2 separate regions of the Homo sapiens genome follow, and region 2 is linked to region 1. Evidence: fine-mapped expression QTL. A gene starts in region 1. The other region holds a variant in brackets. All regions are shown on one strand. Distances are from middle to middle.

Region 1 (15,560 bases):
ACCACAGGGAAGGAGGAGAAATGGGGCGTCTCTTAAGCTCACGCTCTGCCTATTTTAGCTTTTCTGGGCTGGGACTGAACATCCTGTGTGGCAGTCAGAAAGCTGGCTGGGGTCCTAAGAAAGCTGCCCTGTAGCCTACAGAGGCAAACAGGGGATTTTCAAGGACTCCTGTAGAAACCACTCACCGGGGGTAGCTGGAGGGTGGTCACCTGCTGTGTGTCCCGCACATTCTCTTCCTGAAGAAGGAAAGCATCTTGCAGAACTGAAAGAGATCAGAAAATGGTGTCCTAAAGTGGGCCAGGGCCAGGCCTGGTGCTGATACCTTCTGAGCTTCCTGCGGCTCTTCATTTCCATTTTGGTAGCAAAGAAAATCACAAGAGAGGCACCAACAGGGAACTGTTTCATGGTGCTTTTCATAAAACCCCAGTCTCTGTTCTTAACTGTAAAATGAGGATTACAAAATGACGCACATGAAAAGTACTCTGTAAACCACAAAGATTGCTGCGACTTTGTTTCCAGATATAACAAGGGGGGCTGTAACAGAGTGTGCCTGGGTTCATGATAGCACGGTCAATTAAATGAACTCTTTCACCTCGGGTAGGTCCCCGGACCTCAGCATTGTTATCCAAACTATGGGAAAATAAAGGTTAAAACTCTATGGAGTTCAGCCGTGTGTGGTGGTACATGCCTGTAATCTCAGCTATTCTTATTTTGGGGACTGAGGTGGGAGAATCACTTGAGCCCAGGAGTTCCAGACCAGCAGGGACAACACAGAGTATTTGTTTCTTAAAAAGAAAAAGAAAAAAAAAAAGAAGAAGAAAAAGAAAAAGCCGTAGAGTTGAGGAATCTATAAGGACTCTTAGGGTCTGGATGTGGTGGCTCATGCCTGTAATCCTAGCTCTTTGGGAAGCCAAAGTGGGAGGATTGCTTAAGCTCAGGAGTTCAAGACCAGTCTGGGCAACATAGGGAGACCGCATCTCTATTAAAAATAAAAAAACTGGGAAGCTGAAACAGAAGGATTGCTTGAGCCTGAGAGATGGAGGCTGCAGTGAGCCACAGCTGCACCACTGCACTCCAGCCTGGGTGACAGAACATGGCTCTGTCTCAAATGAAAAAAAAAAAAAAAAAAAGTAAGGGCTGTTGGCAATCAGAATTACTGTGGAACTCCATAAAAAAAGAAGGAAAATCCTGTCATTTTTGACGACATGAATGAACCTGAAAGACATGCTACGAGCAATAAGCCAGACACAAAAAGAAATACTGCATGTTCTCACTTAAATGTGGACTCTAAAAAAGTTGAACTCATAGAAGCAGAGATCAGAATGCTGGTTACCAGAGGCTAGGGAATGAGGGGACTGGGGAGACATTGGTCAAAGTGTACAAAATTTCAGTGACATGAGAGGAGTAAACTCAGGAGTCCTATTGCACAACATGGTGACTATAGGCAGTAACAACGTACTGTGTACTTGAAAATTGCTAAGAGGGTAGATCTGAAGTATTTTCACCACACACAGAAAAAGGATAGGTATATGAGGTAATGCATTATATTAATTAGCTTGACTTTTTTTTTTTTTAAGAGACTGGTCTCACTAGGTTGCCTAGGCTGGAACAGAACTCCTGAGCTCAAGGGATCCTCCCACCTCAGCCTCCTGAGTAGCTGGGACTACAGGTGTGCCACCATGCCCAGCTAAGTAGCTTGGTTTAATCATTTCACAATGTGTATAGATATCAAAACATTACACTGTACACTGTAAATACATACAATTTTTTTTTGTCAATTTGAAGACAGAAATTAAACAAAAAAGAAAAACTGTTACCACTGTAGGTACTCCTGAAAGAGCATTTGACACAGTGTCCTAAAGACCCTCATACAAAATGTAAAGTGTGGCTTTGGGACCATCTCACCAGCCTTATTTTGGGCTACCAGGGACTCTGCCACTCTTCTCTCCTGGAATTGGAAACTACCCTTTGTTCAGGCTTCTGCCATGAGCCACATCCCCTGCCAACAGTGCAGCCATGTAAAAATGAGCTCTGTTTCAAAAGGTACTCCTTTCTCAGATTAAGACTTGGAGAGCTGTGCTATAGTCTACTGGTTAACCCCAGGTCACATGTTAAGTCATTATCAAAGCAAACCCCAGAGGCCAGTGTCCCTGGCCTTTCAGACCTGGAATACAAAGCCTGCAGGAAACAGCAGCTGCAGGAGTGGCTATGTGGAACAAAGGACGGGGCCAGGAGCCCACACAGATGGCAGTGCCATTCTAGGGGTCTCAGTGGAAGGCAGCCTCTTCACTGTGTCTGAAGGGGAAGCTCAGGCTGGATGGGCGTAGATTTGAGGAGGTGGTATTTTTCTGTGTGTATGTTCCATTTTAAGTTTCTATCTTCATCTTTATTTAACTTACTTTTACCTCCCAGTTTTATTAAGCTATAATTGACAAAAATTGTATGTATTTTGTATACGAAAACTGTACAATGTGATAACTATACATTGTGAAATGATTAAATTAAGCTAATTAACAAATCTATACCTCATATATTTTTGTGACGAGAACATTTCTTATTTACTTTCTTAGCAATTTTCAAGTATAAGATGCATTATTTTTCATCAACCTCACCATGCTGTACCATAGATCTCCAGAATTTATTCATCTTACCTAACGGAAACTTTGTACTCTTTGACCGATGTCTCCCAGAGGGGGTGTTTTATTTTTTAGAGGTGGGTTCTCGCTATGTTGCCCAGGCTGGTCTCAAACTCCTGGCCTCAAGCAATCCTCCTGCTTCAGCCCCCTGAGTAGCTGGAACTATAGGCATGAGCCACCATGCCTGGCTAGGAGGTGGTGTTTTAGTTCTGCTTCCTCACACCTGCCACCTTCTGGGATATGTAGCTATCCCAGATATTCATATATATATGAATGGAGATGCCCCCTAACTGGGTAACCTGGCTAACTCCTTCCCATCCCTAGCCCTCCCTTCTCCAAGTTTAAAATCATGTTGGCCGGGCACAGTGGCTCACGCCTGTAATCCCAACACTTTGGGAGGCTGAGACATATGTATATATATATATACACACGCATATATATATATACACACACACACACATATATACACACACACACACATATATACACACACATATATATACACACACATATATATACATACATATATATATATACACACATATATATATATATATATGAATATGTAGTCCCACCCTACTTTTGGCCCCGATAAATGAATACATGGACCCTTTCAAGAATCACTTCGGAGAGTTGCAGACCCTACACAAAATCTAGCTTTTGGGGAAGATCTTCAAGATGAGGAACTATACAGCTCTGATAGGTAGTGCATTCCAATGATGAACTGTCCCAATAGTTAAGGTTTTCCTGATTGCTAACTCTCATCATACCTACTTTGCCTATTGATTATTGCTCATGGAAATGGGAGAGCTGGCCCTGTTTTCCTAAAGCCCATCTGTGGTTGCTGGCTTATCTCAGAACTTTATCAAGAAGCAACTGCACAGGCTACTGTAGTTCCTGAAACTTCTTCCTCTCCACCTGCATGCCTTCCCAGACCCCACTACAAGGCCTCTCACAGCCCCCCACTTCCTGCATAACCCAAGCTACTTGCACGTGCATTATGTGGGCGACTGGCTGCTTCCCTTATACCTGTTGTTACAGGCTAAGTTATGGCCCTCTCAAATTCCTATGTTGAAGCCCTAACCCTTAGGTACCTCAGAATGCGACTGAGTATTTGGAGATAGGGTCTTTAAAGAGGTCATTAAGATAAAATCAGGTCATATGGGTGGGCCCTAATCCAATAGGACTGGTGTACTTATAAGAAGAGGAGATTAAGACACAGACACACACAAAGGAAAGACCACATAAAGAGACCCAGAGAGAGAAGGTGTCTGTTACACCTGCTCTGCAAACTTCTCTTAGTGTAAACATCTTCCTCTTCCTTTCCCTGAAAGAAAACCGCCCGTCATCAAGAGTCCTGGCACAAAGCTTGTTGTCAGCTTTCAGGGCCGGATATTCATGGGTTTTTACGGGTCCCAAAGAGAGCCAGTGGCATAAGAGACTTCCCCTCCTAGCTCCTTTTTTTTTGTTTTGTTTTGAGATGGAGTTTTACTGTTTTTACCCAGGCTGGAATGCAATGGCGTGATCTCAGCTCACTGCAATCTCCGCCTCCCAGGTTCAAGTGATTCTCCTGCCTCAGCCTCCCGAAAAGCTGGAATTATAGGCACCCACCACCACACACAACTAATTTTGTATTTTTAGTAGCGATGGGGTTTCACCATCTTGGCCAGGCTGGTCTCGAACTCCTGACCTCAGGTGATCCGCCCGCCTTGGCCTCCCAAAGTGCTGGGATTACAGGCGTGAGCCACCGCGCCCAACCCCTAGCTCCTTCTAAATGTCTATCTGCAAACTTCTCTTAGTGTTAACATTAGGCATGTCTACAAGCCAAGGAGAGAGGCTTCAGAAGAACCCAAGGCTGCTGATACATTGACTTCAGACTTCCAGCCTCCTGAACTGTGAGAGAATACATTTCTGTTACATAAGGCATCCAGTCTGTGGTACTTTGTTATGGCAGCCAACAACACACCAAACTTGATTTATAAGCAAGAAAAGGCTGAAGAGTTTATGTGATTTGTACAGAAGTCAATATAGTTTTTCCACACACAGAAATTTAATAGGCATTTTGGTTTTATTACTGAAAAGCTTATCATAATGCCAAACACAACTTCTGCAAGTCATAAGAAAGTCTCCCCTGGCCCCCCAGACACTCTCTTTCCATTGTACCTATAGAGCACTATGGCAAGTCCACCCAGAGTCATAAGAAAGCCCCCCTGGCCCCCCAGACACTCTCTTTCCACTGTACATATAAAGCACCGTGGCAAGTCCACCCAGAGGAACCCACGGGCCAGACTTCCTTCAACCCAAGGGCGCTGGTTTCCCATGATATGTACTTAAAGTTTTGGGCACCTCAGGCCTTGTGTTCAACCTTTTGTAGGTTGTATCTCATTTAATTGTCCAAAAACCCCAAAAAAGGTAATTACTATCTCTGCTGGACAGAGGAAGAAACTGAGGCTTTCAGAGTTTAGAAACATGCCTCAGGTCATAACCAGAAGATTCAAATCTAAGTTTATCTGATGAAAAAACTACTTTCCTGTAGCTACCATGTACTTCATATACATACTCAAACTATGTGTAGCTGATGTTCTGGCCCCACACACTAGACACCACCCTGTGTCCTCCTAAGTATTTCTACATCTCTTCGCAGCATCACAATACTCCTGTAAACAGGAGTTGTTTAGCCAAGGAAACAGAGGTTCCAAGAGACAAGAAATGGCCATGCTCCAGTCATGCAGCAGGCCCCAGCTGTACACTGGCAGTCCCCAGCTGTCATCAAACTGACAAATCCTGCAGAGATGCACCCTCGAAGAGATGAGAGGGCACCACCTCAGTGACACCCACCTACAGAAGCGTTAGCTCTGAGAGGCTCTAGAACCATGAAGAGGACAAACATCCTGATGAGGTTCTCATTTAATTGCTCTAGGAAGGGACTCAGACCCTGACAACAGCTCACAGCACCTCGGGGACACGAGAACACTGCTGATGTAAAAGCCATCAGCTTAACAAAAACCACACCCAGTGCACAGTATGGGGTGTGCACTTCCCCAGATCACCCCTGCTACACTCCCCTGGGCTGCATACCTGGGTCCCCGCTGAGCTGGCTTGGTGGTCTGCTTGGGAGCCCCAGGCACTGTGCCAGGGTTATGGGCTGGGCATCCTGGTTCTTTGCAAGGTCGCTGTGGGGCTCTACCGGCAGCTGCTCCTGCTCCTGGTCCAGAGGGCTGTCCCCATCATCAATCACCACAGGGTCTTCACAGTGCTTGAGCTGCAATCCCAGAGACAGCTTTTCAGGGCTAGGGGAAGAGGTCCCATCTCTCCCTGGGCCTGGTGACCATCCACTCCACAGCTGACCATCAAAGGCTCAACTTAGGCCTTGGACTGGGCTGTAAAGGGGCACGACACTATCATGCCCAAATTAGAGCCTTCAGGGAGTAAAACTGGCTTTCTTAGGAAACTCTAGTCTGGACCTAACCAAAGTAAATGGCTCTCGATGGAACTCCTCATTCCCCAGCCAGCACATGCATGGCCCAGCCAAAGTGTCTAAGTACCAGATCTCTACCCGTCCCAGCCCCACCTCTTCTACTCACCCACTGCCAGGGTCTCCCGGGCTCCCGTTCCAGTGCCTCCACCGCGGCCACAGCCTGCTCTCCGCTCTCAGGCTCCTGCGCCCGCACCCAGCTCTGGATCTCCCGGGGCAGGATGGCCAGGAACTGCTCCAGCACCAGCAGCTCCAGAATCTGCTCCTTGGTGTGCCTCTCAGGCCGCAGCCAGCCCCCGCACAGGTCCCAGAGGCGCTGCAGGGCCTCCCGGGGGCCCGCCGCCTCCTGGTAGCGGAAACGGCGGAAGAGACGCCGAGAGGACTCGGGGCTGGGAAGCTCCCCCTGGGGGCTAGGGTTCTCTCCAGGTGGGCTCCTCATTTTCCTGGGCTCCTCACTTTCCTTCGGAGCCAAGACTCGGGGGCACAGGGCTGTGGGCATGATGGGATTTGATGGGGGTCAGCAGCAGAAGACGACCCTATTTCCAAACAGAAATCACTGGCTTCAGTGTTCTGGTCTCCTGTGGTCATTTCTGGGGGACAGTGACAAGGAAACTGTCAATGCCCTCAGAGACCAGCCCTTTGGAGAAGCCCTGGGAAAGGTAGGGAGTGTTGGTGTGGCTGGTCTTTACACACAGGATGAAACAGACAGAAAGATGCCCTCCCCCCATCAGTACCATTACGTGTGGATTCCCGTTAAGTGGGTGACTGGATGAACAAGACAGGAAATCTGGGAGAAAGTGGTGGCATTTCAACGTGACACTGCTGTTTTGAGCATCCCAGGAAACCAACAGCGCCACATGCAGATGTAATCAAGACGCTCTGGTACCTTGGGTGGCTGGGTCCTCCTGGAGAGATCCGAGATGGGCAGGCCAAGCAGGCCACTATCTTGAAGCTCCGGAGCCGAAGTCACTGTTCTTGTTATTAAGACCTTTACAAATGGAGCTGGAATGACAAAGACATGCATCGGATGAGCCTTCAAGCACATCCAGGAATGGAAAATCCACCCTTCTGGTGGCAGAGGGCTGATGGTGCTGCGTGCTGGATGGACAACCCAGCCAGAATCAGCTTTGCCCAGCAGAGTCTGCAATGGGAGGCAAGGGAAAACATCACATGAGACAGCTACATGCAGTCTACCAGGGACAAATAACACTGCATCTAGAAGTATCAGTGGTTTCCTATGAGCCTTCTGCCAATTCTGCCCTGACCTTCAACCTCGCCTCCACCCTATTCTCTATCCTTGCCCTCTTCAAACCACATTGAAGGCAACTGCACACTCGCCAAAGCCCTTCCTCGGCCAGGACAGAAAAGTGGGTCCGTCACTGCACAGCTCAGCCCTCAAAGAACCCCTGGACACTGCAGCTGCCACACCCCCAAGGTGGGACTCAGGGGTCCCTACACCTCCCCGCTGGTGTGCAGACAACTAGCCGACACTTTTGCCACAACTAGGGTGGCAAGAGACCAGCAACCAGTATACCTGGTGTTTATGATTCCCACTTTAGAACGCTGGGCCCGTGAAAGGGCACATGGGGACACTCACAGTCCCCTTCTCTGCCATCAGGCCTCTGTGATCCTTAGGACCGGCAGTGCCTGCCACTCCCCCATCTGCACGAGGTTGTCCAGCGTGGCCGCGTCTTAACCTCCAACAGCTCACAAGGTGGGAAGGGGGACTCGGGCCTCACTCCCATTTCACAGAAAGACAAGTGATGCCAGAAAAGCTACGGAACAACTGAGTGGTTCCAGAAACACCCACTGCTCTGAATCTCTTTGCTTTCCAAAGTAACAACATACACAGAAACCCATATGGGGGCCGTGGCGGCGTCGGGCTGGACGCATTACAGCGCTCCCCACCACCGGATCGCTTCCAGGGCGGCTCCGGCATCTGGAGCCCGGGGTGGGCCCCGCCCGCCCTGCTCGGCGGCCCCCTGCGGCGCCCATCACACACCTGCAGCGCCCAGGACTACTCAGGCCCGCCCCCCCGAGCACCGGCGCCCACCCGGGCTGCCACTCGGATCGTCTCCAACCAGACGGCCGCGTCCGTCTTTGTCACGGCGGCACCTGGCGCGTCGGAGGCTCGGAGGAGATGCCTGATGAATGAACTAACGTGAGTGAGGCGGAGGAGGGCCCCGCAGGGGCGGAGCGAGCTCCCAGCCTTTCGCGGAGGAGGGACCGAGCTGGATCGGCAGAAAGGGAAGGAGAAGGTCGCTGTGGGCCAGGGAAGGGGGAGCCCGCCCTCCGCGCCCTCGGTCTCCCTCACACGCGCGTCTCCCGTCTCGCCGGCTCCGGGCTCCTCACCTCACAGCCTGGAGCTCCCTCCCGGCGTCCGGCCGAAAACCCTCCTGTGGCGGCGGAAGTCCAGGGCAGCCGTCCTCATCCTCCCAGCCCGCCCGGCCGGGCGTACTCGCTGAGGCGGGGTCTCCGCAGGCGCCCGGCTCCTTTCCCGGCCCGTCCAGACCGCGTCTCCCGATCATCCGGAAAGCCACGGCTCGGCTCGGGGGCAAATGGAGGCGCCTGAAAAACAATGGTGTTGCTTTCTCCCCCGCCCGCACCTTCCTGAGCGCTGGGCTCTGGGCTGGGAGGCGGCGCCGCGGAGGCCGGGCGCGGGCCGAGGAGGGCGGGGCGGGGCCGGCCGCGGGAGCCGGGGTGCACTCACCGCCGCGGCGCGTCCCTGTTGGCGGGCGGCGCAGGCCTGGCCGCCGCGGGAGCCCGCCGGACGCCGAGGAAAGGAAAGGCCGGAGCCCTCCGGCTCCCTCCCCTGGGACACTTCCTGCTCCGCTCTAGGACTGGGGAGGTCTCCGCATCTCAGTGGTTCGCTCCCCCGCCCCCCGGCCGAGGTGTGCGCTGGGGGTGACATCCGACACCCCCGGCCCGCCCCGCTCCGCGCGCGCCTGGGCCTGGCCGCCGGGCCGGGGGCTTTGTGGGTCAGCCACGTCGCCGCGCCCGGGCTTCCCCGCGGGCCCGCCGGTCCGGAAGGTCGGCCCGGGGCTCTTTTCTCCGCTGTTCTCCTTCTCTGGCGCCCCCAGGACACGCGGCCAGTGGACGCCCGGAACGGCCGACCGGGAGTCGCGGCTGGGGATGGAAGCTGGAATTGGGGGTGCGGGATGGAGCGGAGAGAGGAGGCCCCGCGCGCCGTCGGCCGCCTCATTTCAGACTCCCCTGCGACCCCCCCCCCGCCGCCAGCCGAAGCCCGGGCCGCCCAGCCCCTCCTGCCGCTGCGGGACGCCGAAGGTAGCGCTCACATCCGCGCCTTCCGGGCCTGGCGCCCACGTGCGGAGTCCCCGGGTTAGGAAAGGCCGCGCATCCGGAGGCCACGCAGAGCCTCGGGGCTTGCGCAGAGGGGCTGCGGTGAGTCCTGACCCTGAGTGGGGGTCACGGGGCTCGTTGCTCGCTGAAGTGAACACGGTTGCAGCTGTGCACAGTGGCGGAGGGAGAGGATGAGGGACTCTGACCCAAGGTTATGTGGCAGTGAGGGGCAAGCAGAAATGGGGGCCTCCGGACCCCACCCCGAGACAGGGCTGCTGGCCGCTGCACTATGCTGAATATAGCCCAAATTCTTACATGGGTCGTCCCCGGGGAATGCTCATTTTTCAGGCTCCAGAGCTTGAGAGAAAGTGCGAACCCGGTCCCTGAGCAGGTCTGATTCCCATGGCCCCTTCGCCATCTGCTCTGCACCGAAATTGGATTCTCCTACGCAGAGGAGAAGGTGGAGAAGATTCTCCGTCTTCCGGAGGGTAGCTACTGCCGGTAGCTCCGATTTCCTTCGGATCCCCTTTCAAGGGCAAGCAGAAGGAAATCAGTTTCTCCAAAGAAAGTGGCCCGGCTGAGTAAGTGGGAACAAGGTGGTTGGACTGAGGCACGGGATCCTTTAGCTCCGTTGCTCTTCTAATCCCGTGGCCCTGGGCACCGCCACTTCCTCCTCTGAACTGCTGGAATAATCACTTCTGACTAGCAGAGTTACTGGGAGCCGCTGTTTGTCAGTGTTCACATTCTGACTTTAGCAGGAGATGGAGCGAGCGAAGGAGTGAAGCCCTTGTTTGTGAACAGTGATTGTTTCCCGGATGACAGCCAGATGCCGGGCAGGGCCACGCAGATCTTAGCTGGAGCCTACAGGTACAAGTGAGAGCCACCCCCTTTGACGTAACTGGACTGGCATTTACAGAACTCATGTACAGCCCACTCTCAGGAACACCAGCCAGGAACCGTGACATGGAGGAGAGGAATTGGGAGGAACCGAGGGGTCATCAAAGGCTGGTAGGGCTTAGGTGCTCTAGCAAACATCCTAGTCTGTGGGGTTCCAGAGCTCTGGTGCTACAGCTCCCAACCCTTTGATTGGCCCAGGAACTGGCTGTTGAGTGGGCATCCGTGTTCATAGCTCTGCCCCTTGCAACCCTAAAGCAGATAAAATGCAGGAGGCAGAAATTGCTGGCAGACAGCATCCAATTAATCCCCACTACCCAATTCAGTTTCTTCCCCTGACCTGACACGTCCCTGCCCAGCTGTGCCTCCCACTGTTCACCTTTTGAGGCACAAAACGGGCTGTTTATGCTGCTGCTGCATTTAGCTCAAAACAGGGCTTCAGAGTCAAGGTTCTGGACTCAGGCACCCGGATTAAATCCTGCCCTATGAATTCCTAGCCAGGTGACCTCAGGCCTACATAACCTTTCTGTACCTCAACTTCCTCATCCAGAAAACAGGGATGATGCTGTCTACCTCATTGGATGGTTGTGCAGGATCAAAGATTCAGTCATTCAGCAAACCTATACCGAGTACCTACTGTACACTCATGAGTGCTAGGCAGCCAGCCTTCCAGGTGCTCAGGTACATCTGTGAACACAACTGGCTATTGGAGGAAGCAAAATCAGTAACATGACCTGCTCTCTTTGATCTGTGCTACAGAAAAAAAGGAAAGTGGAGAGGCATCAGGAAGTCAGGAGTGCTGGGGAGGGGCTGGTAACAGTCATGGTATTAAAGAGGAGGGCAGGCAGGCCTTACTGTGAAGGTGGTATTTGAGATGAAGTAGTTGGTCAGAGTCCCTGTTTGACACATGGAGACCACCTTGACAGCAAAGGCCCTAAGGGGGAGCGGTGCGAAGCAAGGTGGGCTGGTGAGTGAGAGGAGAGGGATGGCATAGAGCTGGGTGGGGGCACAGGAGCCCGTGGGGAAGGTGTTCGCCTCTGAATGAAGTGGGGTTGTATCAGATACCACGGGTGAAGCATCGGGAAGAGGATCCTGCCTGTAAACCCTGCTCAAGGACTGCACCATCATCATGCCCAGTGTGTGCGTGTATTAGGTTTGTATGAATATAATGTTGCCAATTGTATCTGTTTTTATGAAATGTTTGCTATGTGCCAATGATTATTCGATCCATGGGGAGACCATAGAAGAATGATCCAAGGAGTTGGGAGGGGAATCAAATAATAAATCAGCGATTCTGCAATATAACGCCATTGGTGATCGGTGTCATGAAAGAAATACAACATGGTGGGGAAGAGTGTGCTGGGGATGTTCAGGTAGGGCCTCTGTCAGGAGGTGACATTTGAGTGGAGAGCAGGTGGGGGGCTCCTGAGCAGAGGTGTGTGGGAAGAGTATTCCAGCAGAGGAAACAGCGTGTGCTTGCTCAGCTGGGCAGAGGAATAGTGAGAGAATGGTGAGGCTGGAACCAGGTCACCAGATGTTATAGTCATTAGAGGGTTTCAAGTAGGAGTGTGGCCTAACGGAATCTTGATTTTATCAAGATCACTGTGCAGAACAGATGAAGCAGAGTCTCTGTTAGGAATCGTTGTAGAGATCCCGGCAGGAGATGCTCGGTTCCTGGAGTTGACTGGTGGAGGCACAGCTGGTGAACAGTAGGCCCAATCCAGGCTCTGTGTTGAAGGCATGCTGCCTGTGTTAGAGGAGTGAGGAACGGCTGTGACTGGGGCTGAAACTGGGTGACTGAACAGGCCTTCTAGAGATGGCAGATGCAAGGAAGCAGGTTTCCAGGAAGGGGTTGGGTTTGGGGTTGAATTGGTGGATTTGGGACTTGCTGGTTTTCAGATGCCCAGGAGACAAGTGGGGATGACCCTCTGGGATAGAAAGCTGTGGCTGGAGGTGGAAATCTGGAGTCACCGTATGTAGCAGGAGCTGGGGCTTGAGAGGGTTGAGTGTGTTTTGAGAAGCAGCCCCAGGGAGGGCAGACCCTGCGAAATGCCAGCCCTGGACCGTGGGAGCCCAAGGGGTTAGTGGAGGAGAAGGGAGAGAAGGGGAAGTAGGAGGAGGAAAGTGAGGGAGGACGAGGGCAAGAGAAGGGGGTAGGGAGAGCTGCTGCCGCCTTGAGATAAAAGGAAAATTGCAGGTGTGGAGCCCTGGAATCCAAGTGAGCACCTGTGTTTCAAGGAGAGAAAGAGGTCAGGGGGATAAATCCTGCGCCAAGATCAAATCCGATGAGGAAAGAACACTGCCCATTGAATCTGGTAGAGAGGCCCCTGAGCAAAGCAGACAGTGGAGCTCCTGGGCTAGGGCACTTTCTGGAAGAGAAGGGAGATGAGAGTGGACACAGCCCTGTGGAGAAAAACGGTCTCATCTTAAAGATGGGAGAAATTGCAGTGCATCGCCTGGAGGAGGGAGGGCTGGCACCCAGGGCCCACGGGGAGCCGGAGGGCAGGGAAGGCTGCCTCTGGACCTGAGGCATGTCCACAGCATCTGGGCAGGGAGAGCCTGGGGCAGGCTTCTTCCAACTTTGCCAACACTCCAGTAAAATAAGGAGCAAGTGTGACGTTTTATTTTATGAGGCAACTTGGCTAGCTGTGGTACTCAGTTTTTGTTCAAACACCAGTCTGGTGTTTCTGTGAGGCTGTTTTTTAGATATGATTAATAGTTAAATCTGTAGACTTTGAATGCAGCGGGTTACCCTCCATAGCGTGGGCGGGCTTCATCCAATCTGTCGAAGGCCGTAAGAGCAAAGACTGCAGTCTCCTGAGGAAGGAACTCCCCCTGCGGCGCGCCTTCCGACTTGCTGCAGCTTCGGCTTTCTGGATCTGCAGCCTGCCCTGCAGATTTTAGACTTGCAAGCCAATCAGTTCCTTAAAAGAAAACAGTCTCCCTCATCTCTCTCTATTGATCTCTAGCTCTCTATCCCCACCCCCTTCCCTCCCCCCACTCCACATGCTATTTGTTCCGTTTCTCTGGAGAACCCTGACTGCTACACAGGGCCCTTAAGTGACAGGGAGAAAGAGAGGGTGAAATGTGAGAGCAGGAGGAAGAGGGCGTGAGACGGCCATCTTGCAGAGTGGAAAGGTGAATGGACGATAACAAAGGAAAGGGTGAATTATATATAACCTGGAAAGTGAAGTGTGCACAAGGAAATGTGATGTGTAACCTAAAGCCCCAGTGCTTTGCAGGTGGGCAGCCGTTCCACTGTGACATCGCCCCCCAGGTGGGCAGCCGTTCCACTGTGACATCACCCCCTGCAGAGGAGGTCATCATTCCGCATAATATGCTTGTAGACTGATGACAAATACAGGTGTGCAAATATGTGAAGCCCCATCACTGGACCAACCACACCTGCCTTCTCTGGGAGCTGTCAGTACCCACAGGCCCCAACCACAGCTTGCGCGGCTAACCAGGCACCAGGGACTTGCATGCTTTTTGCAATGTGAGAAGCTCTGTTGTAAGCTGGGCATAGTAGATACTCAATAAACTGTGGCTTTAGGAACAGTCCTAGGAATAGTAGTGCTAGTTCTTACTGTGTTAGTCACAGACATCTAGGGGGCATGGACAGCAAGGCATTAATCTGGTCCCTTATTGTGGCCTGTGGAAAGGGGTCAGTGAGAAGCTGCTCAGTGAAACAGCTTTGCATGATGACATTTTCTCACTATAGAGGCCTCCCAGCTGTCACAGAGGCCTGTTCATCTATTTTATTTTTTCTTTTTTTGAAAGCAAAAACACTTTGAGATTTGCAGGTAGGCTGACATAACCCACTCTCAGGGGCTCCAGTGAAAGTACCTCTTTTAAGTGGCCAAGTTGTCACTAAAGAGATGACATCTTTTTCCTGGAAATCAGCGTTGGATGCTACAGTCAAGAAAATAAAGACCCCAAACATTGGTATTTGGAGCTATTCTTGAGCATTGGGTTGTTCATGTTTATTCAGCTGGACCATCAGGGACAAGCTTGTGCCTTGACAAATTCAGATTTGCAGAAATGACCAGATTTATCGTCTTGATTCAGTGAGCGGGGGAGGGCACCCAGAGGAGGCTGGAATATGGCTTGATAATGGGAGAAGTATTTTTGCGAGGTTTGCTCCGGATGGAGGAGGAGAAGGAGGAAGAGGGGGAGGGGAGGAGGAGGATGATGTCAGGTGTGATGTAAGTGTGGGAGTAAGTCTCCCTTGTGGGATCTTTAAGAATCACTCCCAAGTGGCTGCAGCAATTACAGTCCAAGAATGATATGAAAGTACAGGATTTATGCTGCTCCAAGGTCCTGGAGAGGGAGGCACCGCATGCGTGCAGGGCCGTGTTGGATGAGAGCCAAGGGCCCAGGCTCTGCAGTGCAGGTGGGGGGTCGAGAAAGAGAGAGAACCCGTGGGCAAGTACCTGTGTCGGGGGGTCAGGGTGGGGCACACAAGCAGAAGGTATGAGGGGATTTTACTGGTGCATTGGAATGTCGCTGGGTCACAGTCGGGGGAAGGCAAGAAGGGGACCTGGAGGCAGAGACCAGGCTTATCACACCAGTGTGCCTAGTTGCTTGGGGGACTCACAGCCTGTGTGTGATACTGAGGCCTCATGGAAGTATGAAGTTTTAATAATTGATAATGTATCAGGGAAGTGGGAGTCGCATCTGCACTGGTTGTTGTTTAGAGGGGGGCTCAGAAGAAGTAGGGGTTCACTGAGGGTGATGGGCCGTCAGGAGGCAAGGATGCCTTGGTTGTTGCGTTCCCCCAGTCATAAATGAGTGCAGCAAGTGGGTCTAGGGCGTTCTTGGTTAGAAAGCAGGAGTCCATCTGTCAAGCGGGCGTTGTGGCGTTTCGAAGCTTTGGCAAGACCTTGGGGAAAACCACGTGTCCTGTGAATGCACAGTGGGTTACTCGTCTGTCTTCTTAGCCTGATGAAAGGCAGGGCTGCCTGTTCTCTTTTCTCAGTCCTTACAGATCTTGTAGATTTTCTCACATTCGCTCCTGGAGAGGTTTTTTTTTGTTTTTGTTGCTGTTGTTGTTGTTGTTTTGAGAGAGTCTCGCTCTGTCCCCAGGCTGGAGTGCGGTGGCGCCATCTCGGCTCACTGCAACCTCTGCCTCCTGGGTTCAAGCGATTCTTCTGCCTCAGCCTCCTGAGTAGCTGGGATTACAGGTGCCCACCACAACGCCTGATTAATTTTTGTATTTTTAGTAGAGACGAGGTATCACCATGTTGGTCAGGCTG
Region 2 (15,560 bases), 27 kb after region 1:
GAGGTGGGAGGATCACTTGAGCCCAGGAGGTTGAGGCTGCAGTGAGCCATGATTACACCACTGCACTCCAGCCTGGGTGACAGAGTGAGACCCTGTCTCAAAAATAAAATAAAATTTTAGCCATGAGACTGAAAAAACTCACTAATTTAAAAGGACATTTGGGGCCAGGAGTAGTGGCTCACACCTGTAATCCAACTGATATGGTTTGGCTGTGTCCCCACCCAAATCTGATGTTGAATTGTAGCTCCCATAATTCCCACGTGTTGTGGGAGGGACCTGGTGGGAGATAACTGAATCATGGGGGCGTTTTCCCCCAGACCATTCTCGTGGTAGTGAATAAGTCTCATGAGATCTGATGGTTTTGTAAAGGGAAACCCCTTTTACTTGGCTCTCTTTCTCTCTGTTGCCTGCTGCCATGTAAGATGTGCCTTTTGCCTTCCACCATGATTGTGAAGCCTCCTCAGACATGTGGAACTGTGAGTCCATTAAGCCTCTTTTTCTTTATAATTTACCCAGTTTTAGGTATGTCTTTATCAGCTATGTGAAAATGACTAATACATCAACTCTTGAAGAGGCCAAGACAGGAGGATTGCTTGTGGCCTGAAGTTTGAGACCAGCCTGGGCAAAGTAGCCAGACCTCATCTCTACCAAAAAATTAAAAAAAAAAAAAAAAATAGCTGGGTGTGATTGTGTGTGCCTGCATTCCCAGTTGCTTGGGAGGCTGAGGTGGGTGGGGTCACTTCAGCCCAGAAGTTGGAGGTTGCAGTGAGGTGTGATTGCACCACTGCACTCCAGTGTGGGCGACAGACTGAGACTCTGTTTCTAAAGAAAAAAATAATAATAAAAATAAATGAAAGGACAGTTGGATTAAAACTGTGGCCCTGTAAATGGAACAAGTTAATCTGTCCCACATAGCTGAGTTGTAGAGAATATAGGGCAGCAAATCTACACCTCAAAGCAGAGAGAGAGAATTTAAGCTTTTTTTTTTTTTTTTTTTTTTTTTGGTGAGACAGACTCTTACTCTGTCACCCAGGCTGAAGTGCACTGGAGTGATCTCAGCTCACTGCAACTTCTACCTCCCAGGTTCAAGCGATTCTCCTGCTTCAACCTCCCAAGTAGCTGGGATTACAGGCGCCTGCAACCACACCTGGCTAATTTTTGTTTTTGTTTTTGTGTTTTTTTTGAGGCAGAATCTCACGCTGTTGCCCAGGTTGGAGTGCAATGGCGCGATCTCGGCTCACTGCAACCTCTGCCTCCTGGGTTCAAGCAATTCTTCTGCCTCAGCCTCCCGAGTAGCTGGGATTACAGGCGTGTGCCACCACAGCCGGCTAATTTTTTTTTTTGTATTTTTAGTAGAGACAGGGTTTCACTGTGTCAGCCAGGATGGTCTCGATCTCCTGACCTTGTGATCTGCCCGCCTCAGCCTCCCAAAGTGCTGGGATTACAGGCATGAGCCACCATGCTTGGCCTAATTTTTGTATTTCTAGTAGAGACGGGGTTTTGCCATGTTGGTCAGACTGGTCTTGAATTCCTGACCTTAAGTGATCCACCTGCCTTGGCCTCTCATAGTGCTGGGATTACAGATATGAGCCACTGCACCTGGCCAAATTTAAACATTTTTAAGAAGAAATTTGTGTGTGTTAGGTAAAGGGAGGTTAAAAATGGATGCCAAGGTTAACACAGAATCATAGGAATTTACAAGAGCATATAAGGAGACCAATTTTAGGTAGTTTTCAATGTAGTACCTATTAGAAATGGGTTCCCTTAATCATTGTATCCCTCCCCCATTTCAGACGGAGCTGAACTCCCATTTCCAAATGGGTGGTTTCCAATTTGGTCTTCATTTTCCAGCTGCACCACTGAGCTCAGTGCAGAGCCCATTAATGAATAGGGCCAACAAAGCATTTGCAGTTTTCAGGGCCTAATACTTATGTATTTGAAAAGCAAGCACAGCTGGAAGGCAGAACACCCAGATCCTCAGAAATCAAAGACCCTGTTTTTACATGGAGTCCTGGGTGTCTCAGAGCTGTGTTAAAAGCCCAAGAGGGAAATGTCATGGGCCAGGCTGAGCAACACTTCCACCATGCACCTTGCTGCAAAGGTATTCCCCCTGGGCTGGTGGATGGCCCAGTGCCAGTCAGCCCACTGTGTGATCAGCCCATCTCTCATGGGTATCTTTTTTTCCAGTATTAAGTGTTCCTACAGTCTCCAAGTTTCCAAACTTCACATTTCTTATCTAAATGTTCAAAGAAATGAGTACTCCCCTATAGTAGTAACCATTTGCCACAACTGTAGTCTGCCACCTCCAAGATTACACTTGCCAGTGACTCACCAGCCGTAACACACCCGAAGGTAATGTGCTCTTACAATACAAAATACTCCTGGTACCCATAAAAGCCAAAAAATATCAGGAAACTCAGACCGGGTGCAGTGACTCATGCCTATAATCCCAGCACTTTGGGAGGCTGAGGCAGGAGGATCACTTGAGCCCAGGAGTTTAAGAACAGCCAGGGCAACATGGTGAAAACCCATGGGTACAAAAAAATTAGCAAGGTGTGTGGTGATGTGCGCCTGTTGTCCCAGCTAATTGGGAGGCTGAGGTGGGAGGATCACCTGAGCCTGGGAGTTTGAGGCTGTAGTGAGCCATGATCGTCATAGGAACAGAAGGCAGAGAAATTCTGGGAGGGCAGTTCCCCAGCCAAGGCCCCACCTTCAATCTGAAAAGCCTGATACTGCCGCCCAAAGTGAGAACTTACATCCCTGTTTTCCCATTCAAATGGTGCCTTTTCCAAAACCACCTGTGGCCTGCTCTGTCCCCCATCCCGTGCCCATAAAAACCCCAGGCTCAACTGGCAGAGAGAGGGGAGGCAGCTGGACTTCGCAGACTGTGGTTGGATATGATTGAGAAGTGGCTTGACTTCAGAGGGACAGCTTGACAGCATAGCTTTAGAGAGGAGTCCAGCTGGGGATGGCCAGACTTCAAGGGAAGATTACCTTCCTGCTCCATCCCCTTTTCAGCTCCCTTTGCCACTGAGAGCCACTTTCATTGGCAATAAAATCCCCCACATTTACCATCTTTTCATTCATGTGACCTGATTCCTCCTGGACACCAGGCAAGAACTCAGGTGCCATGAGTGTGAGTGCAAAAGGCTGTCACACTGACCCTCCACTGAGCTGTTAACACTGAAGCTGGCCATGGACGGCAAAGCTAAAAGGGCACTGTAACACTTCTTCTGGGGCTTGAGGGATTGTGGGCACTCTCCCCTAAATGCTGCTGTGGGGCCGGTATGCAGTTCGCTTTTGCCAGCACCCAAAAGCACTCACTCAGGCTTCTGCACCTACTCACTGGTGCTCCCTCTCCGAGGAGTGGAGCAGTAGTGAATGGAGTTTGCCTCTGCTGGTGCCAAAGCAGCTGGCTGGTTCTAGCACCCGTGCGCCCCGGTTTCTGCCCACAAAAGGGTCAAGGAAATATCCTGCTTCAATTGTGTGAGAAAACATTTTCACTGGTCCATTTTCAAGGCCTGATAAATCTAAGCACTGGCAGCCAGTCTGTAAATGTAACAAACCACATGGCTCATGCACCCAGAAGGTCACAATAAGCAAACAGAATGTAGAGAAGGGGTCAGTCCATAAAAGGGAAGAAAGTTTCGTTATAGGGAAATCAAAACTTAAGTGGGAGCTGGGCGCAGTGGCTCACACCTGTAATCCCAGCATCTCGGAAGGCTGAGGCAGGTGGATCACCTGAGGTCAGGAGTTCGAGACTAGCCTGGCCAACATGGTGAAACCCCATCTCTACTAAAAATACAAAAATTAGCCAGGTGTAGTGGCAAGCGCCTGCAATCCCAGCTACTCAGGAGGCTGAGGCAGGAGAATTGCTTGAACCCAGGAGGCAGAGGTTACAGTTTGCCAAGATTGTGCCATTGCACTCCAGCCGGGGTGACAGAGTGAGATTCTGTCTCAAAAGAAAAAGAAAAGAAAAGAAAAAGAAAGAAGAAACTTAAGCAGGGAAGGAGACTGGGGTATAACCTTACAAGGAGGACAATGAAACTTAGATGACATCCGGGAAGATCGTAACCCCATAGTACTCGACCAATGAAGAACTAGCGGAGGGACTTGTGTGCTAGAAGATAAATTACCTGTTGTGACTGCCCCAGTTGTGCCTGCCCACCAGACACCTGATCTTGCAAGACCGTTACTAAATGTCTCCTTTTCACTGTTCTTCAGGCCTCTAAGTCCATTCTCTGGATTTGGACAGGTGAGTGTGTTTCTCACAAGCATGGGGGCCCATCTGGGATCCATGTGCCTGTGTGAAGTGGGACTTTGGCCGAGAGGGGAGATGTGTCCCACCTGATTTAGGTGGCCCGCTCTATCTGGGCATCCCAGCTTCCCATAGAAGGCATAAACAAACCCAAGACTATTATTCAGGAGGCAGCAGAAGCAACACAGGGAGAAAAGCAGGCACTGCGGGAACCAGGCAAACTCATGCACCAGCCAAGGAAGGAAAATTGGACTGTAAGTACTGCCTTGGTCATGGGGCATTTTTGGAGGTCTCGGGGTGTGCAAGAAACCTCCAGTAAGGGGGGTTGAGTAGACAGGGAAAAACTCAGACGCAGAGACTGGCAGAAAATGGGAAACAGGAATTCTAGGCCTGGGAGCCAAAGGAAAGAGGGAGCCAAAGAGACTCCGTCTGACATTCCCCTGGATAGTCCTTTGGGGAGATTGTTGCAGGTTTGGTGGAACAACCCTCGAACCAGGGACAAGGAAAAGGAAAAGATGATAAAGTATTGCTGTTTTGTCTGGCCCAAAGACCCCATTCATAAGCCTTCTGTCTTTTGGCCTAAGTTTGGCTCAGATGAGGATTGTGTTCTAAGCTTTAATTCTCTCTGTGAATAATAAAACTTCATCCTCACAAGAAGAGATAGGTTACTCTCTGCTGAATCAAGGAATTAGCCCCCATGATCCCCCTCAAAAAAGAAGAAAAAGAGCCTGGTGAAGAGCCCTCACCCAGTGAAAAGCCCTGGGACCCCCTATCGTGCTTGCCCCTTCATACGTCTCACAAAAAAGGGGACAGGAAGATCAAGGGGCAGCAGGAGGGTTAGAGGAAGAAAGACCCAGAGACTACAGGGGAGCCAAGCCAACTGCTCCTTTAAATCCTTATCCAAATTTAAGAAAAGAATTACAAGAGTGTAAGAGGGATATTGAGAACTTCCCTATCCCTTCCACACAGCAGGCATCTAGCATGTTCCCTCTTAGGGAAGTTCCCATGGGACAGGGAGAGATTGGCTTTGTAAACACTCCTCTTGCAAGTACTGAAGTTAGGAATTGCAAGAAGGAAATGAAACCACTCCTAGAAGATCCCCTGGGTTTAGCAGACCAGCTGGACCAATTCCTAGGACCCAGCTTTTACACTTGGGCTGAAATGATGTCTATCATGAATATCCTGTTCACGGGAGAAGAAAGGGGAATGATTAGGAGAGTGGCCATGACCAGTGGGGAGAAGCAACACCCTCCTGGGCAGTGAGACTTGCCAGCCAAACAAAAATTTCCAAATGTTGATCCCGAATGGGATAATAATGATCCCAGGGACTGGGCCCAAATGCAGGACCTCAGGAAACTAGTAATTCAAGGGATCAAAGAGTACACTCCTAGGACACAAAATGTCTCAAAGGCATTTGAGATTCAACAAGAAAAAGAGAAAACTCCCTTCACATTCCTGCAGAGGCTCAGAGATGAGAAAATACTCCAGATTAGATCCGGAGGACCCAGTAGGGCAAGGCCTGTTGCAGATTAACTTTGTTACTAAAAGCTGGCTTGACATTACAAAAAAAAAAATTACAAAAGATTGATGGATGGAATGAGAAACCGATTGAGGAATTACTGAGTGAAGCTCAGAAGGTCTTTGTGAAAAGAGGGGAAGAGAAGCAGAAACAGAAAGGGAACATCATGATTTCCACTGTGGAAGAGGTAGCCAAAAAAAGATTAGCTCAAGATCCCCCTCAAATGAGACAAGGGAATGATAGATTTCGACACAGAGAAAGAAAGGAAATGCAGGGGAAACCTCCTAAGACTATGAGTGGCTAGATGTTACAAGTGTGGAAAGCCAGGGCATCTTAAGAGAGAATGTCCTCAATGGAAAAAAGAAGAAGAGATGATCCCCCTCATGACCGTTGATGAATACAATGGGGGTCAGGGCTTCCTTCTGAGTAGGTCCCACCAAGAACCCTTGATAAATTGGAAGGCGGGACCTTAGGGAGAAGAAGTGACATTTTTGGTTGACACTGGGGCAGCTCACTCCTCCCTAATCCACAAACCAAAGGGTACAGAACTCTCTAAGGAAAAACTGAAAGTATTAGGCGTAAAAGGGGAGGGATTACAGGTTCTGATATTCAAGACAATGTTAATTAGACTGGGACCAGAACACATTGAGGGGTCACTCTTATATATTCCTGAAGCAGGAACTAACCTAGTGGGTAGAGACCTGATTGTGAGATTCAGTTTAGGATTAGGGATACACAGAAAGGACAAATGAAAGTAAGGATGGGCCTCCTAACAGAGGAGGAGGGAAGAAAAATTAGTCCCGTTTTGTGGTTTGGGAAAGGCAAGCGGGGACACTTAAGAATCACAGCCTTACAGATTGGACTAAAACAAC[C/CAGG]AGGAGGAGTTTGCAGAAAACAATATCCCATTTCTGTTGAAGGGAGAAAAGATCTCCAACCAGTAATAGAGGGATTAATTAAAAATGGACTGTTAGAACCCTGCATGTCACCATATAATACTTTTTTTTTTGAGATGGAGTTTCACTCTTGTCATCCAGGCTGGAGTGCAATGGCATGATCTCAGCTCACTGCACCCTCCACCTCCCGGGTTCAAGCAATTCTTCTGCCTCAGCCTCCTGAGTAGCTGGGTGCGTGCCACCACACCCAGCAAATTTCTTTTTGTAGTTTTAGTAGAGATGGGCTTTCACCACATTGGCCAGGCTGGTCTGGAACTCCTGACCTCAGGTAATCCACCCGCCTCAGCCTCCCAAAGTACTGGGATTACACGCTTGAGCCTGTGCCTGGCCAATACTCTAATTCTTTGTGTTGCTTATCTGGGAGGGAGAGATTCTGTGTCTATTCCCAGCCATCTTTTTGCAGCTGCAGGCATCTCCCACCGCCCCCCCATCCCAGTCAGCTTTAGCTTCCCTATCTTAATGTGCCTAAAGGGAAAGGAATGTGCTTATTAAGGCCCACTGTTTATACTGGGCCCGACTGTGGGAGTGTGAAGTTTGGTGTTTACCCAGGAGACATCCCCCGCCTCCTTCTATGCTTAAGTTGTTTATCTGTAGTTTATAGCCTGAACTTTCAGGCTACCCTTTGTTAAAAGAGAAGTGATTTCTTTGAACCGCACGAGATTAGAAAGGAAGCTATTTCAAGAGTGTTAAGGGGAATTATGGAAGGTTTACAAATTTGATGGGATTATCCCACCCCTTGGCATCCTGTGGAAAGGTAAAAAGAATAAACCAAACTCTCAAAAAGCATCTCACCAAACTAAACTTAGAAACTAAAGTGCCTTGGACCAAATATCTCCCATGGCTTTAGGATTAGGATTCGGACAGTCCCCAGAAAAGACTTGGGATTGTCCCCTACAAGTTATTATATGGACTCCCATATTTGGGCAGGGCTACAGATCCTCCCACTATGGAAACCAAAAACCAATTCTTAAGAAATGATATACTGGCCATATCTTCCACCCTGTCATCCCTCAGGTTAAAAGGTCTTCTGACGCAAGCTCTGCCTCTTGAGTTCATGGTTCACTACTTCCAGCCTGGCAACTTGGTGCTGACTAAGATTTGGAAAGAAGACAAGCTCCACCCAAGCTGGGAAGGTCCCTGTCAAGTGCCTCTGCCCCTGAGACAGCCCTGCGAACAGCTGAATGGGGGTGGACTCACTACACTGGAATCAAGAGGCCGGTAAAAGAGACCTGGAAAGGGAAGGAGAAAGAACAGTGGGAAGTGCATGGGTCACCTGACGAACACTTAAAGTTAACTCTGAGAAAAATTTAGAAAGAAAGCGTGGGCTGGCTGCATTTCTGAAAGGTAATAAGGCTGGGATGGGTTAGTATACAAAGAGCAGAAGGTCAAAATGGAAACTGGCAGGGGACTCCCCACTGCTCAATCAGGTTGGTGATTAATATGATTAAGACGGTAGCACCCCAAACTATAAGATTTGATGCCTGTCAGGTTTTACCTTGTGGGAATTTAGAAAATCAGAGACAGCTCTCGCAGGCAGATAAATCTCTTTGCCTTGAACCAGATGCAGGTTGCAGTAGGGCATCACCCTTCCCCAGCTGGGAGGATGTATGGTGCGCTACCCAATTTCAGGGTTGGACAGTAAACATGGTGTGGGTAACTCCAAACTGGAAACCCTTGAAGCATAAACTACCTCTGTCCAAGCGCTCCCCACCAAATAACTGCCAGAATTTAGAATGCCATCCTATACTCATCACCCTTGACAATTCAGCCTTTCTAGACCAAGAACCAAAAGTAGCATCTCAGGTATATGGGTTAGGAGAAGACATCACAAGGAAAGACCCCCAGGTCGATTTGATCTCAGGCTAATCAAGAACTCAACCTCCCATTTGCCTGGAACTACTCCAACCCCAGACCCTAATAAACACTTTAGTCTACCAAATATTAACCCTAAAATGGTAACAATAATTGAGGTAAAGGATTTAAGGCAAACCTTAGAAATTGAGACAGGGTATAGGGATGTGAATGCCTGGGTCAAATGGGTCATATTTTCGGTACAAGCCCTCAGCAAAAGTAACTGCTACGCGTGTGCTGCAGGACCACCTCAGGCGCAGGTGGTTCCGTTTCCCCTGGGATGGAATAGTGATTCTAGAGGAATGTGTTGCATGTTGGCTGCATACCAGCACAATGATATAAGTAAGGAGAAGTAAGACTTGTAAGAGTCTTTCATTGCTGTTTCCTGCATTGCGGAGCTCAGATCCCAGAGCAATACCCTCGTTCTCTGCAGAGAACATGAACTACTCCTCTTGCCTCTCTAGACAGGGGGCAGAGTTCCATAAGCCTATGGGAGAACTCTCAACTTGTACCCACATCCTAAACGTCACTGGTGAGTTGAGCAATGGCAATTACTCAGCTCTCCATACACCCCGGGCTGATGTCTGGTAGTATTATGGGAAAAGGAACCTACGTAACCTGTTACTGTCCAATGGGACCAGGACTTGTGCTTTAGTCTCATTGGCCATTCCCTTCACCCTGGCATCCCATAAGATACCCCAAAATACACATGGCCACTGAAACCAGAGAGATTTCACAAATTCTTTTAATCCCAATGTGTATGTTGACTCAATAGGAGACCCTGGTGGGGGTAGGGTTGCCTAATAAATTGAAGGCCTGAAACGCAGTAGGTGCTGGGTTTAAAGTCAGGACACTTCTGCTGGTCAACTATTAAGAAGAATGCGAATTAAATTAACTCCATCTATTATAATCAACAGGAATTCATCAATTATACTTGGGATGCCCTCAAAGGGTGGCTAGCCAGTTAGATGCCACCAGCTAAATGGCCTGGGAAAACAGACTTGCGCTAGACATGATACTAGAGAAAAAGGGAGCGTGTGTGTTATGCTGGGCGGGAAATTTTGTACTTTCATTCCCAGCAATACTGCCCCAAATGGGACCATCACAAAAGCTTTACAAGGACTAACAACTCTAGCCAACGAACTGGAAGAAATGCTCGGAATTAATGACCCATTTACGGGTTGGCTAGAAGGCTGATTTGGAAAATGGAAAGGAATGGTAGCTTCAATCCTTATATCTCTCATAATTGTGGCAGGATTCTTAATAGCAGTGGAATGTTGTATTATCCCTTGTGTGAGGGGACTAGCACAGAAATTAATTAAAACAGCTATTAATAAACAAATGCCCATGACTTACCAGCAAAATAACCTGCCACTATTAGAAAGCAAATTAAACTCACTCTCCTATGAGGAAGAAAGTAAACAACTTCTGGAGCGATTCACGGCCCAAAAGGGTTTAAAAGAAAATGAGAACAAAATAAGTAAATAGAAAAGAGGAGGGAATTGGTGAGAAAACCTTTTAAATGGTCCATTTGCAAGGCATGATAAGTCTAAGCACTGGCAGCCAGCCTGCAAATGTAAGAAACCACATGGCTCATGCACCCAGAAGGTCACAGTAAGTGGACAGAATGTAGAGGTGTGGTCAGCTCATAAAAGGGAAGAAAGTTTTGTTATGGGGAAATCAAAACTTAAGTGGGGAAGAGGACGGGGTATAACTTTGTAAGGGGGATAATGAAAGTTAGGCGATGTCCGGGAAGATTGTAACCCCACAGTACTCAACCAGTGAGGAACTGGGGGAGGGACTTGTGTGCTAGGACATAAATTACCCGTTGTGACCGCCCTGGTTGTGCCTGCTCACCAGACACCCGATCTCGCAAGACCGTTATGAAAAGTCTCCCTTTCGCTGTTCTTTGTGCCTCTAAGTCCATTCTTTGGGTTTGGATGGGTGAGTGTGTTTCTCACAAATGCACCACTGCACCCCTGCCTAGGTGACAGAGACAGACTGTGTCTCAAAAAAATGAAAATATCAGGGAACTCAATGCAAAAGACTGCGGCGCTTTAGACTTGAGAGTAACCTGCCCATGACCCTTGGGGCTCCGTGAGGAAGACAAAAGACCCCCAAAAGGAGGGTGTATGGCACCTTTTTCTGGTTTCTCAAGGGGTCTCAGGACTGCTAGAAGTTCCCTCTTGATTTCTTCGTGTGTTATTGAAGGTGGCAGAAAGGAAGAAGGGCCAACAGTAAATGGGAAAACAATTCTTAGAGGGCTCAATTTGGGAAGATTTTAAACTTCCCAAAAAGGCCAAGGATGTTTTACATTTTTCTCAGTAAAAATCATGCCGACAACAACAACAACAAAAAAGTGAACAGATGGAAGGAACATAAAATTGCTTTTTAACAAAATTTCAGTTGACTGAAAAGAATTCCCAGGGTAGGAACAGGATCCAAAGAGAAAAAGCATTGCTCTATATATCTGCCAGGGAAAAATCCCCCAAAAACTAAAAGAAAAAAGAAAAAGCAGAAGGGTGTGTTGAAAATACACAAGCAGCAAGCTTTCTGTTTCATGAGCACGTGGCCTAACACTGGAGTGGAAAGAATTTCGGCTGTGGAGCGCTCCCACCCGCTCTGCTCATGGGAGGAGCCCTGCCTCTCTTCAGCTTCCCAGCAGTGGTGGGAGACACACGTCTCTTCTGCCCACGGGAGGAAGCGAGACAAAAGAAAAAAGTTGCTATCACACTCTAAATACAAACCAGTTTTCTATCAAAGGTATACCTGAACAAATGACTCAACGCCAAGTGAAATAAGCACCAAGGAGACCAGAACCAAGAAGCCTTTCACGGCTTTCACCAAGGTCTCCAGAGAGGAGGCAAAAGTTGCAACCCTGCTCAGATCCAGACCACTCCAGGCAGCTCAAATAAAGGAGAATTTTAGTAGCTGCAAATGGGGCTACTGTCTGGCCATATTATCTAGGGTTTCAGCCTCTCAGCTGGCTGACTGCACACAAAGGCCTGACAACCCGTATCTCCCACAGACGGAAGATTGCATGGCAGTTTGTAAGATGGGAAGTCAAAAGCTGTCTGTGGGAATAGACAGGATTGCAAAGTGAAAGGGTACCCCAAAAGGTCAGAGTTATGCAAATACCAAACTAACTTTTTACAAATGTTTCTATTTGTTTTGTCCTGAGTTAAAAGATTTGCATTTCCAAGAGTCTGGTTTCCTGACTGGGAATCAAATCCAGGCTGTGGTGGTGAAAGCATGGAACCCAGGCCCTAGATTAGGGTGGCCCGTCTTCTTTGTAAATCCCAGGGGGATCCAAAACAGGCAGCTTGGGCGCACTATATATATATATATATATATATATATATATATATATATATATATATGTGACATATATATTATATATGTGACATATATATTATATATGTGATATATATATTATATATGTGACATATATATTATATGTGATATATATTATACATATATAACATATACATGTTAGAAATATATATTTTTTATATCATATATATATATTTGTTTGAGACAAAGTCTCGTTCTGTCACCCAGGCTGGCGTGCAGTGTGGTGTGCTCATGGTTTACTGCAGCCTCAACCTCCTAGGCTCAAGCAGTCCTCCTGCCTACCCCTGGCTGAGTAGCTGGGACCACAGGCGTGTGTCACGATGCCTGACTCATTTATTTGTTTATTTATTTTGTAGAGATGGGATCTCCCTATGTTGCCCAGTCTGTTCTCAAACTCCTAGGCTCAAGCAAGCCTTCCTTGACCTCCCGAAGTGTTGGGATTACAGGCATAAATCAGTGAATCCAGCTACACAAAGGATTTATAACTTAGTTGTAAATCTGATTTCTGCCTTAAAAAAAGAAATCCTGCTAAGGGAGTTTCTAAGGCTATATATTCCTTTTGTGTCTTTTCATAGGTACCAATAAGAAAGCTGTTTAAGACAAGAGCTCTTAGTGGCCGGGCGCGGTGGCTCACATCTGTAATCCCAGCACTTTGGGAGGCTGAGGCAGATGGATCACCTGAGGTCAGCAGTTCGAGGCCAGCTAGCCAAGATGGTGAAACCCTGTCTCCACTAAAAATACAAAAAAAAAAAAAAAAAAATTACCTGGGCATAGTGGTGCGCACCTGTAATCTCAGCCACTGGGGAGGCTGAGGCAGGAGAATTGCTTGAACCCGGGAGGCTGAAGTTGCAGTGAGCAGAGATTGCGCCACTGCAGTCCAGCCTGGGCGACAGAGTGAGACCTTGTCTCAAAAAAAAAAAAAAAAGAGACAAGAGCTCTCTAAAAAGTTTTCTTTTAAAATATAACTTTTTAACTTATTTATTATGTTTTTTCAAAATTTCAACTTTTATTTTAGATTCAGGGGATACATGTGTGGATTTGTTACATGGGTATATTGCATGATGCTGAGGTTTGGGGTGCAAAGCATCCTTTCACCCAGGTAGTGAGGATAGTACCCGATAGGTACTTTTTCAACTCTTGTCCCCCTCTCCCTCCACCTCTCCCCTTCTCCTCTCCCCCTCTCTCTCTCTCCCCTTCTCCTCTCCCCCTCTCTCACTCTCCCCTTCTCCTCTCCCCTCTCTCACTCTCCCCTTCTCCTCTCCCCTCTCTCACTCTCCCCTTCTCCTCTCCCCCTCTCTCTCTCTCCCCTTCTCCTCTCCCCCTCTCTCACTCTCCCCTTCTCCTCTCCCCTCTCTCACTCTCCTACTTTCCTACTCTCCCTGCTCTAGCAGGTCCCAGTGACTATTGTTTCCATCTTTATGTCCATGTGTATCCAACGTTTAGCTTCCGCTTATAAGTGAGAATGTGGCCGGGTGCGGTGGCTCACGCCTGTAATCCCAGCACTTTGGGAGGCAAAGGCAGGCGGATCACCTGAGATTGGGAGTTCAAGACCAGCCTGACCAACATGGAGAAACCTTGTCTCTACTAAAAATACAAAACTAGCCAGGCGTAGTGGCGCATGCCTGTAGTCCCAGCTAGTTGGGAGGCTGAGGCAGGAGAATCACTTGAACCTGGGAGGCCGAGGTTGCAGTGAGCCGAGATCACACCATTGTACTCCAGCCTGGGTAACAAGAGTGAAACTCCGTCTCAAAAAAAAGAAAAAAAATGTGAGAACATGCAGTATTTGATTTTCTGTTTCTGCGTTAGTTCACTTAAGATAATGGCCTCCAGCTGCATCCACATTGCTGCAAAGAACACAGTTTTGTTGCTTTTTATGGCTGTGTCGTATTCCGTAGTGTATACGTACCACATTTTATCCAATCCACTGTTGATGGGCACCTAGGTTGATTCCAGCCAATTTATTTATTCCATAAGTGACTCAAACCAATAATCATTTTTTTATGGAAAGTTCTGGAGGTAGCTTTCCAGGTTTAGAAGAGCATAGGTGTTTGTGGTGTATTTAAAATGAATGGGCCGGGTGCGGTGGCTCACGCCTGTAATCCCAGCAATTTGGGAGGCCGAAGCAGGCGGATCACAAGGTCAGGAGATCGAGACCATATTGGCTAACATGGTGAAACCCCATCTCTACTAAAAGTACAAAAAATCAGCTGGGCATGGTGGCAGGCGCCTGTAGTCCCAGCTACTCGGGAGGCTGAGGCAGGAGAATGGCGTGAACCCAGGAGGCGGAGTTTACAGTGAGCCGAGATCATGCCACTGCACTCCAGCCTGGGAGACAGAGCGAGACTCTATCTCAAAAAATAAAATAAAATAAATAAAATAAAATGAGTGCAGAAGATGCACCCCCTCCTATGATCCTTCCCAAAAAACACATTCTCAGAAATAGGCTAAGATAGCCGGGCCTGGTGGCTCACACCTGTATCCTAGCACTTTGGGAGGCTGAGGCAGGTAGGTCACCTGAGGTCAGGAGTTCAAGACCAGCCTGGCCAACATGGTGAAACCCCATCTCTACTGAAAATAACAAAAAATTAGCCAGATGTGGTGGCGCATGCCTGTAATCCCAGCTACTTAGGAGATTGAGGCAGGAGAATCACTTGAACCTGGGAGGCAGAGGTTGCAGTGAGCCGAGATCATGCCACTGCACTCCAGCCTGGTGACAGAGCGAGACTCTGTCTCAAAAAAGAAATAGGCTAAGCTAGCAAGAGGCTTGCTGCCATAGACAGCTAAGGATGGTGTTTACTCATGGGGTGCCTTAAGTATCCCACAAATTTGTGAGAGGCTGCCAGCCACAGACCTGTTAATCTGTGATAACTCCTGTGATTGGACTTTCCCAGGACTAACAGGGACAAACAAGCATTGCCATGACAAAAGTCCCTTATGTATGGGACTTAATACAAATGACCTTGAGTGCTCGGCACATTCAGAGCAGAGTGTGCTGCTTAGTATCTTACTTGTCAGGGGGTTCCCAGTCTTTTTAGACTGGTGATGTGGTTTGGCTGTGCCCCCACCCAAATCTCCACTTGAATTGTATCCCCCAGATTTCCCACGTATTGTGGGAGGGACCCAGGGGGAGGTAATTGAATCATAGGGGGCTGGTCTTTCCCATGCTATTCTCATGATAGTGAATAAGTCTCATGGGATCTGATGGGTTTATCAGGGGTTTCTGCTTCTGTTTCTTCCTCATTTTCTCTTGCCGCCGCCATGGAAGACATGCCTTTCGCCCTCCGCCATGATTCTGAGGCCTCCCCAACCATGCGGAACTGTAAGTCCTATTAAATCTCTTTTTCTTCTCAGTCTCGGGTATGTCTTTGTAAGCAGCATGAAAACAGACTAATATAGTAAATTGGTACCAGTAGAGGGGGGCATTGCTGAAAAGATGCCTGAAAATGTGGAAGCAACTTTGGAACTGGGTAACAGGCAGAGGTTGGAGGGCTCAGAAGAAGCAGGAAAATGTGGGAAAGTTTGGAACTACCTAGAGACTTGTTGAATGGCTTTGACGAAAGTACTGATAGTGATATGAACAATAAGGTCTAGGCTGATGTGGTCTCAGATGGAGATGAGGAACTTGTTG

The links.
Region 2: its variant is fine-mapped to the expression of ZNF496-DT in whole blood (INTERVAL, PIP 0.92).

Annotation. Positions count from the first base shown.
Region 1 is chr1:247,322,969-247,338,528 of GRCh38, forward strand. ZNF496-DT (ZNF496 divergent transcript) reads left to right here and starts at 9,086. Exons shown (of 3, transcript NR_168399.1): 1 at 9,086-10,278. ZNF496 (zinc finger protein 496) reads right to left here and starts at 8,899. Exons shown (of 10, transcript NM_032752.3): 1 at 8,822-8,899; 2 at 8,464-8,679; 3 at 6,998-7,113; 4 at 6,221-6,647; 5 at 5,715-5,898; 6 at 186-262. The coding sequence starts at 6,610. LOC124904574 (a long non-coding RNA gene) reads right to left here and starts at 13,768. Exons shown (of 2, transcript XR_007067004.1): 1 at 13,486-13,768; 2 at 12,907-13,196. RefSeq lists enhancers at 1-169, 5,890-6,392, 8,779-9,073, 12,845-13,345 and silencers at 7,937-8,176, 8,747-8,856, 8,987-9,466, 10,579-10,873, 14,499-14,793.
Region 2 is chr1:247,350,033-247,365,592 of GRCh38, forward strand. The region is part of intron 1 of ZNF496-DT (ZNF496 divergent transcript); the gene reads left to right. Among named protein-coding and RNA genes, the nearest start is that of ZNF496-DT, 26 kb to the left of the region's middle. RefSeq lists enhancers at 7,698-7,997, 12,602-13,146. The variant C/CAGG (reference allele first, on the strand shown) is at 6,650.